3 separate regions of the Homo sapiens genome follow, and regions 1 and 2 are each linked to region 3. The links come from fine-mapping of genetic effects on gene expression. A gene starts in region 3. Each other region holds a variant in brackets. All regions are shown on one strand. Distances are between the middles of the regions.

Region 1 (4,171 bases), 39 kb before region 3:
CCAGGGCTAGCTTATTACTACAGACAGCAAACAACTTGCCAAAGAACATGCCATTCATATGCAAATCAACCAATCAAAAGCCCACATTCCCAATCATCTTCTTCATTTAATGCTCACACACAAAGCCAATAATTTCCCAGCCCTAAATCACCCCAGGGCCAGGTACTGACCAACTAGAGACCACTCCTCTAGCACAGAGCCTGCCAAAATTATTTAAACTATCTAACCTAAGCTTGCTCAAACTTGCCTGCCATGCCATGCCATGCCCATTCCTTCCTGAGGAAATCACTATAAAAGTTCTGGGCCGTGCTTTCCCTCTCTCCACTGTCGCCCACTGACCCAGGTGCTTCCCCATGTGGCCCTGCCTGGCATGGTGTGCCCCCTCCTCTGGAGCTGTAAGTAATAAACTTCCCTTTCAACAGGGCAGTTGTCTCCATGTGTGTCATCTTACCATACCTGATTAAAACAAATCCCGGGTACAAAGCAAGGCCAAAGGGTAAGTCAAAGGGGTTTTTTTTCTTTTTTTCTTTTTTTTCTTTTTGAGACAGAGTCTTACTCTATTGCTCAGGCTGGAGTGCAGTGGTGCAATCATGGCTCACTGCAACCTCCACCTCATGGGTTCAGGTGATTCTCCTGCGGCCTCCAGAGTAGCTGGCATTACAGGTGCCCACCACTACACACAGCTAATTTTTGTATTTTTAGTAGAGATGGGGTTTTGGCATGTTGGTCAGCCTCAGCCTCCCAAAGTGCCAGGCTTATAGGCATGAGCCACGGTGCCCAGCCTGTTGTCTTTGACTGTTCTTAAAGATAGGAGGTACTAGCACATGTTTATATGCCAAAAAGCCAGTCTAGAGAGAGAATTTGATGATGCAAGGATAGAGTAAATGGCCAGGCGCAGTGGCTCACGCCTGTAATCCCAGTACTTTGGGAGACTGATGTGGGCAGATCACTTGAAGTCAGGAGTTCGAGACCAGCCTGGCCAACATAGTGAGACAATGTCTCTGCTAAAAATACAAAAATTAGCCGGGCATGATGGCATGTGCCTGTAATCCCAGCTACTCAGGAGGATGAGGCAGGATAATTTAATTGCTTGAACCCAGGGGGTGGAGGTTGCAGTGAGCCGAGAACACGCCACTGCATCCCAGCGAGCGAGACTCCATCTCAAAAAAAAAAAAAAAAAAGAATAGGGTAGCTGGTATGTGCATGTAGCAGAACTTCTGTGAACAACTTTGATGAGTACTATGCTATTAACATTTACTATTATGATGATTTTAAATCCTATAACTCTGTCATCCAAGCGTCCATTATTAAAAGATCCATTATTAAAAGCCACAGCTGAATAATGTATCTGAAAATCAATAACTTCACAACAGAAATCAGATTTGATTAACACCATGAGAGGTTGGGCATGGTGGCTCATGCCTGTAATCCCAGCACTTTGGGAGGCTGAGATGGGGGGATCACTTGAGGTCAGGAGTTTGAGACCAGCCTGGCCAACATGGCAAAATCCTGTCTCTCCTAAAAATGCCAAAAATTTGATGGGCATGGTGGTGTACACCTGTAATCCCAACTACTTGCTGAGGCACAAGAATTACATAAATTCAGGAGGTGGAGGTTGCAGCGAGACAAGATCACATCACTGCACTCCCGTCTGGGCAACAGAGCGAGATTCCATCTCAAAAAAAAAAAAGGAATACAACTGGGGTGCAGAACTAAGATCTTTGTCTCTGAACTTCAAATATAAAATGTTTGTGGGGGATGAGATGACATATGAACTTCCCAAAATCTAACCTGAACATTAGTCTTTCTTTATTTTTAATTTTTATTTTTGAGATGGAGTCTCGCTCTGTCACCCAGGCTGGAGTGCAGTAGCGCGATCTTGGCTTACTGCAACCTCCACCTCCCAGGTTCAAGTGATTCTCCTGCCTCAGCCTCCTGAGTAGCTGGAACTATAGGCGCGTGCCACCACACTCAGCTAATTTTTTATGTTTTTAGTATAGACAGGGTTTCATGGTATTAGCCAGGATGGTCTCGATCTCCTGACCTCATGATCCACTTGCCTCGGCCTCCCAAAGTGCTGGGATCACAGGTGTGAGCCACCATGCCCGGCCATGTTAGTCTTTCTTATAAGGTATACAGTCATTGATCACACGAGATATTCAGCTTAAAATATTAAACATTTTCTTTCCATAGAAG[T/C]GGTATTAACATTAATTTAAATGGACTCTGATTATAGCTCATCTTCTGGAAATTTAACTTTTTCTCTTTAAAAAAAATATATTTTAATATAAAAATAGAAGAAACCTGGGGAACATGGTGAAACCCCAGCTCTATAAGAAATACAAAAAACTGTCAGACACAGTGGCTCACGCCTGGAATCCCAGCACTTTGAGAAGCCAAGGCAGGTGGATCACGAGGCCAAAAGATAGAGACCATCCTGGCCAACGTGGTGAAACCCCGTCTCTACTAAAAATACAAAATTCAGCTGGGCATGGTGGCGCGCACCTGTAGTCCCAGCTACTCAGGAGGCTGAGGCAGGAGAATCACTTGAGCCTGGGAGGTGGAGGCTACAGTGAGCTGAGATTGCGCCACAGCACTCCAGCCTGGTGACAGAACAAGACTCTGTCTCAAAATAATAATAATAATAATAATAATAATAATAACAATAATAATAATAATACAAAAAGTAAATTATCTGGGTTTGGTGGCACATGCCTGTAGTCCCAGCTACTAGGGAGGCTGAGGTGGGAGGATCGCTTGAACTCAGGAGATCAAGGCTGCAGTGAGCTGTGATCACACCACTGTACTCCAGCCTGGGCGACAGAGTGAGACCCTGTCTCATAAATAAATAAATAAATAAATAAAACAGAGACGGGTTCTCCCTATGTTGTCCAGACTGGTCTCAAACTCTTGGGCTCAAGTAATCCTCCCACTTTGGCCTCACAAAGTGTTAGGATTACAGGCGTGAGCCTTGTTTCTGGCCTGGAAACTTAATTTTAACAATAAGAGGAAAGAAAATGAAGTTGGCTCTTCTGCTTCTGTAAAGGCTCTAGGATTTTTTTTTTTTTTTTTTTTTTTACCAGTTTTCTCCTTATAAAATATTTTACTTTAGATACAGTAGAAAGCACTTTTTAATGCATACAAAGTAATTTCATAGTTTCTGTGGCTTACTATGAAAAGAAAACAAGTTCCCAAGCTTTGAGCATGTCTTTGAGCTAGCAGTGATCAAGCAGCTGCTGCAAATCAGTGAGGAAAAGGGGACTGACTAGTGAGACCTTCCCCAAGGGGATGAAATCACTTACTTGGCAGACACACCCTAAGGTAACCCCCAGTGAGTCATGTCCTTATATAATCCTTTTTCCTTGAGTTCAGGAAGTACCTGTGACTTGCAATGTGCCAAAGGTGATGGTATCATCTCTGCCATGGTTATGTTGTTATCTAAGACTCCACCTTAGATGACTAGAGAGTCACCCACTGGCACCAGCTGCCATGTCATGACAGCTGGTGGCAGGAACTGCAGGCAGCCTCTAAAGCTGAGAGCAGCCTCAACTGACAGCCAGGAAGAAAGCAGGGACCTTTGTGCTTCAACTGCAGGAAGTGAATTCTTCCATCAACCATGCGACACTGGGAGAGAACCCCATGCTCTGGATAGGAACATAGCCCAGCCAACACCTTGACTGCAGCCCTGTGAGACCCTAAGCAGAGGACCTAGCTAAGCTGTGCCCAGAATCCTGACCCAAGGAAACTGTGAGATAATAAATATCTGCTGTTTTAAGCTGCTAGGCTTGCGGTGATTTCTTATAAAGCAATAGAGAGTTGATAATGAGATAGACTGGAAGCCAGAGAATGGGGACCGTTGGGAGAAAAATGGGGTTGGTGCTGGTATGTCTAACAAGTATATGACACGTTATGGCTGGGTGCCGTGGCTCATGCCCGTAATCCCAGCACTTTGGGAGGCTGAAGCGGGCGGATCACCTGAGGTCAGGAGTTCAAAACCAGCCTGGCCACCAGCCTGGCCATCATGGTGAAACCCCGTCTGTACTAAAAATACAAAAATTAGCCAGGCATGGTGGCACATGCTTGTAATTCCAGCTACCTGGGAGGCTGAGGCATGACAATCACTTGAAACCAGGAGGTGAAGGTTGCAGTGAGCCAAGATCGCGCCACTGAACTC
Region 2 (4,171 bases), 21 kb before region 3:
TCACTGCAACCTCCACCTCCTGGGTTCAAGCACTTCTCCTGCCTTAGCCTCCTCCTGAGTAGCTTACAGGCACCCACCACCACGCCCGGCTAATTTTTGCATTTTTAGTAGAAATGAGGTTTCACCATGTTGGCCAGGCTAGTTTCAAACTTCTGACCTCAGGTGATCTGCCTGCCTCGGCCGCCCAAAGTGCTGGGATTACAGGTATGAGCCACCTCACCCGTCCCACTGTTGCCATTTGGAGGTCATCAGGGGTCTCTACTGCATAGAAATTAGTTGGCAGCCTTGGCACTCAAAGTGCTCGGCCAGGGCCATTTAATATAGAAGGACCTGGGAGTTTTGGGTTCTTTGACAATGCATATTTCAGTGGTTTAAGAATTTGGCACAGGTGGCTGGGCATGGCGGCTCACATCTCTGAGTGACCTGGGTTCAAATTCTAGCTGTTATTCAGCATGGGATTCAAAAGTAGGGACATAACCCCACCTCCTCACTGGTGAGGTGGGAGCAGAGAATGACATCCTGGCACACACTGTGCCTTGGAGGGGGCCTCCCTGAGCATCTCAGAGGGGGCTCATGATGGATCTGGCACTCATGGGTTGGGTGCTGTGGGGTGAGGTAGGGAAAGCCCAGCTGAGCTTGGGACCAACCCTGGGCTTCGTGGGAATCTGAAGTCCCTTTCCTAGGGGCCTCTCTGGTCCCTCGGGGCCTGTATGTGCCATCTCCAAGCTGTGTTTACCATGGGCCAGATCACAACCTGTCTGAATCAGTGTTCTCACATAAAAATCAGAAAGACTGATCCCAGCACTTTGGGAGGCCAAAGCAGGCGGATCATGAGGTCAGGAGTTCAAGACCAGCCTGGCCAATATGGTGAAATCCCATCTCTATTAAAATACAAAAAATTAGCCAGACATGGTGGTGCATGCCTGTAGTCCCAGCTACTTGGGAGGCTGAGGCAGAAGAATCGCTTGAACCTGGAGGGGGCGGAGGTTGCAGTGAGCTGAGATCATGTGAGACTCTGTCTCAAAAAAAAAAAAAAAAAAAAAAGGCCAGGCATGGCGGCTCACGCCTATAGTCCCAGCACTTTGAGAGGCTGAGGCGGGCGGCTCACCTGAGGTCAGGAGTTCGAGACCAGCCTGGCCAACATGGTGAAACCCCATCTCTACTAAAAATAAAAAATTTAGCTGGGTGTGGTGGCATATCCCTGTAATCCCAGCTACCCGGGAGGCTGATGCAGGAGAATCACTTGAACCTGGGAGGCAGAGGTTGCAGTGAGCTGAGATCACGTCATTGCAGTCCAGCCTGGGAAACAGAGCAAGACTCCGTCTCAAAAAAAAAAAAAAAAAAAAGCCCAGCACAGTGGCTCATGCCTGTAATCCCAGCACTTTGAGAGGCCGAGGCGGGTGGATCACAAGGTCGGGAGTTCAAGATAAGCCTGGCCAAGATGGTGAAACCCCATCTCTAACAAAAATACAAAAATTAGCCGGGCACGGTGGCAGGTGCCTGTAATCGCAACTACTTGGGAGGCTGAGGCAGGAGAATCGCTTGAAACCCGGGGGCGGAGGTTGCAGCGAGCCGAGATTGCACCACTACACTCCAGCCTGGAGGACAGAGTGACACTCCATCACAAAAAAATAAAAAATTTAAAAAAAAAAGCACCTAAAGTGTTTACCAGTATGCCAGGCACATCAGAAGAGCTTGAGAAATGGTCATGCTCAAATCCTGCATCCCACTACCTGAACCCCACAACCTGTGGCTGGAAGTATGAATACAGGTGGTGGGGAATGGGATAGAAACGGCTGGGCACGTGACCTTGAACCATCAGGGCTCAAACAAAAGGGCAGTGGGGAGGGAGGGGGCTCATAGGGTCCAGACACTACTCTGAGCTGCAGAGAAAGACAGGGAGACAGGCAGTGAGATGGAGGCAGAGCAACAGATGGGGGAAACAAAGAACAGAAGCAGAGAGAAACAGATTCAAGACCCCAGTAAGAGAGAGGGGCCAGGCGTGGTGGCTCATGCCTATAATCCCAGCACTTTGGGAGGCCAAGGTGGGTAGGTGGATCGCTTGAGGTCAAGAGTTCGAGACCAGCCTGACTAACATGGTGGGACCCCATCTCTACTAAAAATATAAAGATTAGTCAGGCACGCGGTAGCTCACACCTGTAATCCCAGTACTTTGGGAAGCTGAGG[T/C]GGGTGGATCATTCAAGGTCAGGAGTTTGAGACGAGCCTGGCCAACATTGGTGAAACCTCATCTCTACTATAATACAAAAATTAGCCGAGTGTAGTGGCAGATGCCTATAACCCAGCTATTCGGGAAGCTGAGGCAGGAGAATCGCTTGAACCCAGGAGGCAGAAGTTGCAGTAACCTGAGATCAAGCCACTGCACTCCAGCCTGGGTGACAGAGCGAGACTCCCTCTCAAAGATAAACAAACAAATAAATAAATAATAAAAATAAAAATACAGAGATTAGCTGGACGTGGTGGCACGCGCCTGTAATCCCAGCTTCTCCTGAGGCACAAGAATCTGGAACCTGGGAGGTAGAAGTTGCAGCGAGCTGAGATTGTGCTACTGCTCTCCAGCCTGGGCTACAAAGTGAGACTCTGTCTAAAAAAAAAAAAAAAAAAAAAGAGAGAGATGGAATAACAGCCAGCCAGACTGAAGAAGAGCGAGCACAGGGCCAAGGAGATACCATGTTGAAAGATCCTTTCTGGACTTGGGCCAAGGTAGACAATTCCGGGACACAGGGACAGAAACACTGAATTGATAACAACAAATGTTTTGGAGACCTCAGAGTGTAAAGAAAGGTTTACTCCTTGTATCATCCCCTCCCCGTGGACTGCTTCAATTCTATCGGGGACAGGCCAGTCCCTGGAGGCTGCAAGGAGCCACAAACCTTTCCCAGCTCACACTCTGCACCCCTCAGTCTCTGCTGCTAAAGAATCAGACTCAGGTAGATGGGGTGTCCACAGTCTGTCCTCATTACCCAGTCATACCGGGTAGCATGGCCCGAGAGAGCCCTTATCTCTCCCCACCTTAAAACCCTCAGCATCACACAGCAGGAACCAGTCCACAGGGCTTACCAAGGATACGCAGTGAAAACAGAATAATGTCTGTTACAAACCCCCTAAACCTGAGATGGCTGAAGAGCCAGATTCCTGCACCCCATCTGACTCCCCCAGGCAGTGGGAGATGACCCAAAGCCCCCATTCCCTGGGCAGAGTGGTGTGCCTGGGGAGGCCTGGCAGTGGTGCTGTGCCATGCCAGACCTTGTCCTGCCAGTCAGTCAGTCCTGTTGGTTGGGTTGAGCCAGGAGCACCCACAAGTCATCAGGGGCTGTGGATTTGTTGCTTGCCGCGTACCGCTGAAGTTCAAGGTAGCTAAAGGGTGGAGTCCATCAGTGGGTGGCCGTTCTCGGGAAGCATGATGCGAGTGCTGGCACCTCCCTGGGCAGAGGATGTATAGTGGACAGACTCGCGGGTGGACTGGCGGAGGCACGCGCAGCAGAGAAGGCGGCGGAAGGTGCGGCGCATCTCAGCATCTCGGCAAGAGTACACAGCAGCATTGACCAGGGAGTTGGCCTCGGCCAACAGTAGGAAGTACTTTTCTACAGCCAGGACATTGCAGGACTCACAGCCTAAACCATCCAGGAGCAGTACCACCTGGCCTGGTGTCCAGCAGACCACGAACGCCCCTGTGGGACAGAGGCGGAAGTGAGCAGGGCAAGCTGTCAGAGGCCCGGCACCTACAGCTCTCAGTTTGGGGTTGGAGTGGTCTCCAGAGCTCGAGCAATAGTGGTGAAGTTTGCAGTGCAAGAGCTGCTTGTTTCCCTGATTCTGCAGTGTGACAGGAAGGCCTGCTAAGATGGGACATCTATGCTAATTGGTACACAGTGGCCAAGGCACTGGACATTTTGTGTGTGTGTGTGTGTGTGTGTGTGTGTGTGTGTGTGTGTGTGAGATGGAGTCTCGCTCTGTCGCCAGGCTAGAGTGCAGTGGTACAATCTTGGCTTGCTGCAACCTCTGCCTCCCAGGTTCAAGCAATTCCCCCACCTCAGCCTCCCAAGTAGCTGGGACTACAGGTGTGTGCCACCATGCCCGGCTATATTTTTTTTTTTTTGTATTTTAGTAGAGATGGGGTTTCACCATGTTGGCCAGGATGGTCTCGATCTCCTGA
Region 3 (4,171 bases):
GCACACACCACCACACCCAGCTAATTAAAAAAATATTTTTTCTTTTGGTAGGGATGGTGTCTTACTGTTGCCCAGCATGGTCACGAATTCCTGGCTTCAAGTGATCCTCCTACCTCAGCCTCCACCCTGCCTGGGGTCTCCCTGAGGGCTGGGACTGAGATCTGTTGTGTGTACTGCCATATTCCCAAAACCTAAACGATGCCTTGCATGGAACAGGGGATCAGTGGTGATTTGTTGAAGGAAAGACTCCTGTCTGTCCCCACTGTCCTGGCCTCCAGACCCCCCTACCTGTGAGGGGTACAGGACCCTCTGGGGAGGGGCCGCTCCAACAGCTGGCTTCGTTGGTCTGTGCGGGAGGGAGACAGTATTCAGAAGCAAACAGGGCAGGGGCCTGGCCTTCCTAAGGCCCCCTCTGCTTGAGGTCTTCCTCCCTGTTCCCCTACTCCCCACTCACAACAGTGGCTGTAGGGGTCTTGTCAGGTTCTGGGTCTTCTGAGAGTAGAGGGTCTCCAGCCAGCATCTCAAGGGTCCTGGGGGATAAAGGTGTGTCAGGATGCCACCTTACACCCAGTCTGTCCTGCCAAGGGGTGCTGGGGACCTTAGGGTTGTTTGTGGCAAACATCACCTCTGTGGCATCTCTTGTGTCTGGGAGGTCTGAAGAATGGTGTTTTGGGGGAATCAGGTGAGTTTTTTTTAAATAGGACTTGAAAAAGCATCTGAAGGGCCCCAGATAACTTTGAGGTTCATAGAGTGGGATTATAGGGATCGCAAATATTTTAAGGGGTTACAAGGATATGTAGGGGTTCTAGGACCACTTTGGGGATTTCCAGTCTATTTAGGGGGACACTTTTAGGATACCGAGGCATTTTGGAGGGTCCCATCCTAGACTTCTCTGGTTATTAGGTATGTAGGTCCAGATGTTACAGGTTCCAAATGGGACTGCAAGGCACCTAAATGGTTAGGGGCTTGGGGCATCTTGGCAGGATTTGGGGGTGATCCAGGCTCAGACTCACACGTTCCCCAGTGAGATTTCGAGGTTGTCCAGGCTCCGGAAGATGTCACTGTACCTCTTCCTGCCCTCAGGACCTGGGGGGAGTCCTAGGGGAGGGGAGTGTAATACATGGGCTAACCACTGCCTCCCTCCACCCACGGCACCTCAACCAGTCTCATTTGGAGGGGGTGGAAGAGAAAGGGAAGAGTGAGAGAGAGAAAGAGAGGGCTGGGGGGGGCTTGGTTGGGGCCAACTCGAGGCAGGCAGATGGACTCACACACCACCAGAGACCAGAGACAGCTGCTCGGGGAACAGAGACACCCACTCCCTGGGTCTGCCTGCACCCAGAAGCAAACCAACAAAACAGATGCCCCAGATGCAACCAGGCTGTCCCGAGAAGAAAGCCGGTCTGACAATGGAACCACGGGCTAGACAGATGGAAATACACAAGGGACAGCCAGGCAGAGCCTGGGGCAGAAACACACATGGAGAGACTGAAGCCGTGAGGGACATAAAGACCGAATGACACTCCACATACACAACACAGACACAAAGACGGCCGGAAACACCAAGTCGGACCCCGCCACATTTCTACTGCTGCCCCCCTGCCCCCTCTCCTAAGGGGCCTAGACCAGCACTGCCGACTCCCCAGGGCTACAGAGGGGCCCTGTGGGGATCCTACCGCGTTGCCCTCTCCCTCAGCAGTCGTGGCACCCTGCCCCCATCACAAAAATCAGAAGCAGAAGCAGTCACTTCCCCTTCCTGGGCCCCCTCCCCCAGGCGTCTGGGGTGAGGGATCAAAAGGGGGAGGGGGAGTGAAGGGCTGGGGTCCTGAACCCATCCGGGCACAGGGCTCCCCACAATGGAGGATCCCTGGGTCCTTCCCATTCAGGAACTCCTCTCCTGGCTCTCAGGACGGAGCGGGACAAGTGTGTGCCCTCAATGTAGGAAGCAGGGGATGGTCGGGGGAGGCCCCTCCCGGATCCCCGACCCCCTACCCGGCTCTGCTGCGTCCATATCTGGGCCCGGGGATCGCTCTGCAGGGACCGGGATGGGGATGGGGTCGCGCGCCGGCGGGGCCGAGCCCCGATTTCCTGCCGCCGCAGCCGCCGCCGCCGCCTCGGTTCCGCGTCGCCCTGCCCAGCGGAGGCCACGCCCCCGCATCAGACCACGCCCCCGTAGCCCGGAAGCCTTGATAGTGCCCTTCTCTACCTGAGCCGCTTGAAACTGGGTCGGGCCAGGGCCCCCTGAGCGACCACTCGAGGCTGCAGTGCCCCTGACCTGGGCATCCTAAGACTTCATCTGGGCCATAGGTTCCCTCTCAGATCTTTGTGCTACCCCAAATCCCACGGAGCCCCAGCCCCCTCCTCCCTGAATGGTTGCAGAGTCCACCTGTCCCGGGGGGCCTCTCCCAGGAGCTCCCACAACCCGCGACCCTGGTGATCCCCTTGCCCAGGTTGTCTCTCGGAGCCCTGAAACCACCTGGGCCTCGCTGGAGCCATGGCGCCCCCTGGTGGAGGCCTGATATTCTGTCCGATTCCAACCAAAATTCTAATACTCGGGCTGGAGAACCCCTGGCCTGGGGGACGCCCCTTCCGTGACCCTCAAAGCTGGATCAGGCTCAAGGCCCCAATTACAGCACACCAGGGAGCAGCCCTTTTAGGTAGGGAGTGGAGGTTTGTCCAAAAGCACCAGCTCTGGGGTTGCCACAAGCCGCCTGTTATAAAAATGCTCCCACCCCCAGCACAGTGGAATTTTGGGGCTGGAAATAGACTTTAAAGTATGTTTATAACTTTGTGTCCAAAGGCTTTGGCTGTTAAGGAGGCAAGGATTCTCTGACTGGCTCCGTGCTGCCTACTCTGCAGTTCTTGAGTTGTGATGAGTGAGTCCATTGAAAGGAATAACACTATCAACCTAAGAGCCAAGCCAGGTTTCCAGGTCACATCCTGGCTGATGCTCAGCCAGAGCTCCCTGACTGTGACATGAGATGGTAGAGCAGCGCAGGCCCCCAAAGAGCATGACAGAGTCAGTACTTGTTTGTTTTTCTTTTGAGTTGGAGTCTCGCTCTGTTGCCCAGGCTGGAGTGCAGTGGCGTTATCTCGGCTCACTGCAAGCTCCACCTCCTGGGTTCACGCCATTCTCCTGCCTCAGCCTCCCGAGTAACTGGGACTACAGGCACTCGCCACCATGCCTGGCTAATTTTTTGTATTTTTAGTAGAGATGGGGTTTCACTGTGTTAGCCAGGATGGTCTCGATCTCCTGACCTTGTGATGGGCCCGCCTTGGCCTCCCAAAGTGCTGGGATTACAGGCTTGAGCCACCGGACAGAGTCAATACTTGTAATGATGCAGATCATATTCCTCAAGTCTCAGACACCACCCGAGAGAAAGGCATGCTGTTATGTATTATGGGAAAGAAAAAAATATCACACATCCTAAGGCTTCTCTCAGCACCTGAGTTGTTAAAATGTGAAAGAGACCTCAGAAATATGGGGGTGCTTGTTAAACTAGAAAATATGCACTGAATTCTCTGGGCAGGGACAAGTCCATGTTCAAGTGCTGAAAGTGCCAGAGGGTTTCACCAACATCACACGCCTGTGGGGAGGGTGCTGGGACCTTCCTCAGTGACCCTCTGTCCCCGAGCCCCCAGCAAACACCGTGTGGCACAGACGAGGTGGAGGCAGGGCTTTTTAAAATCTCAGATGCTGCTTTATTTACCAAAGGTGCTGGCTTGGGGCTGGTTCTGCTGGCCAAGCCAGCGGATGGCTGTGGGGGTCCCAGCTCAGTCTTCCAAGGGCGAGACTGTACAGCCTTGCTGTGGGGGGTTGGGGGCAGGGTTCCCTCCCGGGGCCCTGTTGGGGTTCCCGCCCAGCGGCAGCCAGGGTGGGCAGTGGGTACCAGCACTGCCATCTCAGGAAGGCACTTTCAGCTTCGGGGTCCCCAGGAAGAACTGCAGGACGCGGTCGGCCAGGAGCGCCAGGCAGAAGTCCAGGAGCAGGACCTGGGCAATGACCAGCTTGAACTGTCGGGGCAGGGAGGGATGGTGAGCTGGAGACCTGCAGCCCAGCTCAGGGTCACTGCCATAGGAGGGACCCATCAAGCTGAGCCCCAGGGTCACCTCCACAGGGCCACTGACCTCCACAGGGATGTCCACGAGGCCAAACTGGCTGTTGAAGTCGGGC

The links. PIP is the estimated chance that this variant, and not a neighbour inherited with it, causes the effect.
Region 1: its variant is the best candidate, but not a certain one, in a credible set for the expression of GMIP in whole blood (INTERVAL, PIP 0.84).
Region 2: its variant is the best candidate, but not a certain one, in a credible set for the expression of GMIP in whole blood (INTERVAL, PIP 0.75).

What each region holds. Positions count from the first base shown.
Region 1 is chr19:19,602,789-19,606,959 of GRCh38, forward strand. All of the region lies in intron 1 of PBX4 (PBX homeobox 4), which reads right to left. Among named protein-coding and RNA genes, the nearest start is that of PBX4, 14 kb to the right of the region's middle. The variant T/C (reference allele first, on the strand shown) is at 2,197.
Region 2 is chr19:19,620,881-19,625,051 of GRCh38, forward strand. LPAR2 (lysophosphatidic acid receptor 2) reads right to left here. Exons shown (of 3, transcript NM_001395660.1): 3 at 2,775-3,689. The coding sequence ends at 3,376. Among named protein-coding and RNA genes, the nearest start is that of PBX4, 4.3 kb to the left of the region's middle. RefSeq lists a silencer at 2,820-3,114. The variant T/C (reference allele first, on the strand shown) is at 2,188.
Region 3 is chr19:19,641,522-19,645,692 of GRCh38, forward strand. It overlaps GMIP (GEM interacting protein), which reads right to left and starts at 2,136. Exons shown (of 21, transcript NM_016573.4): 1 at 1,990-2,136; 2 at 1,014-1,098; 3 at 455-530; 4 at 289-346. The coding sequence starts at 2,008. ATP13A1 (ATPase 13A1) reads right to left here. Exons shown (of 26, transcript NM_020410.3): 25 at 4,126-4,171; 26 at 3,677-4,011. The coding sequence ends at 3,901. RefSeq lists enhancers at 1,013-1,968, 1,190-1,349 and a silencer at 1,980-2,229.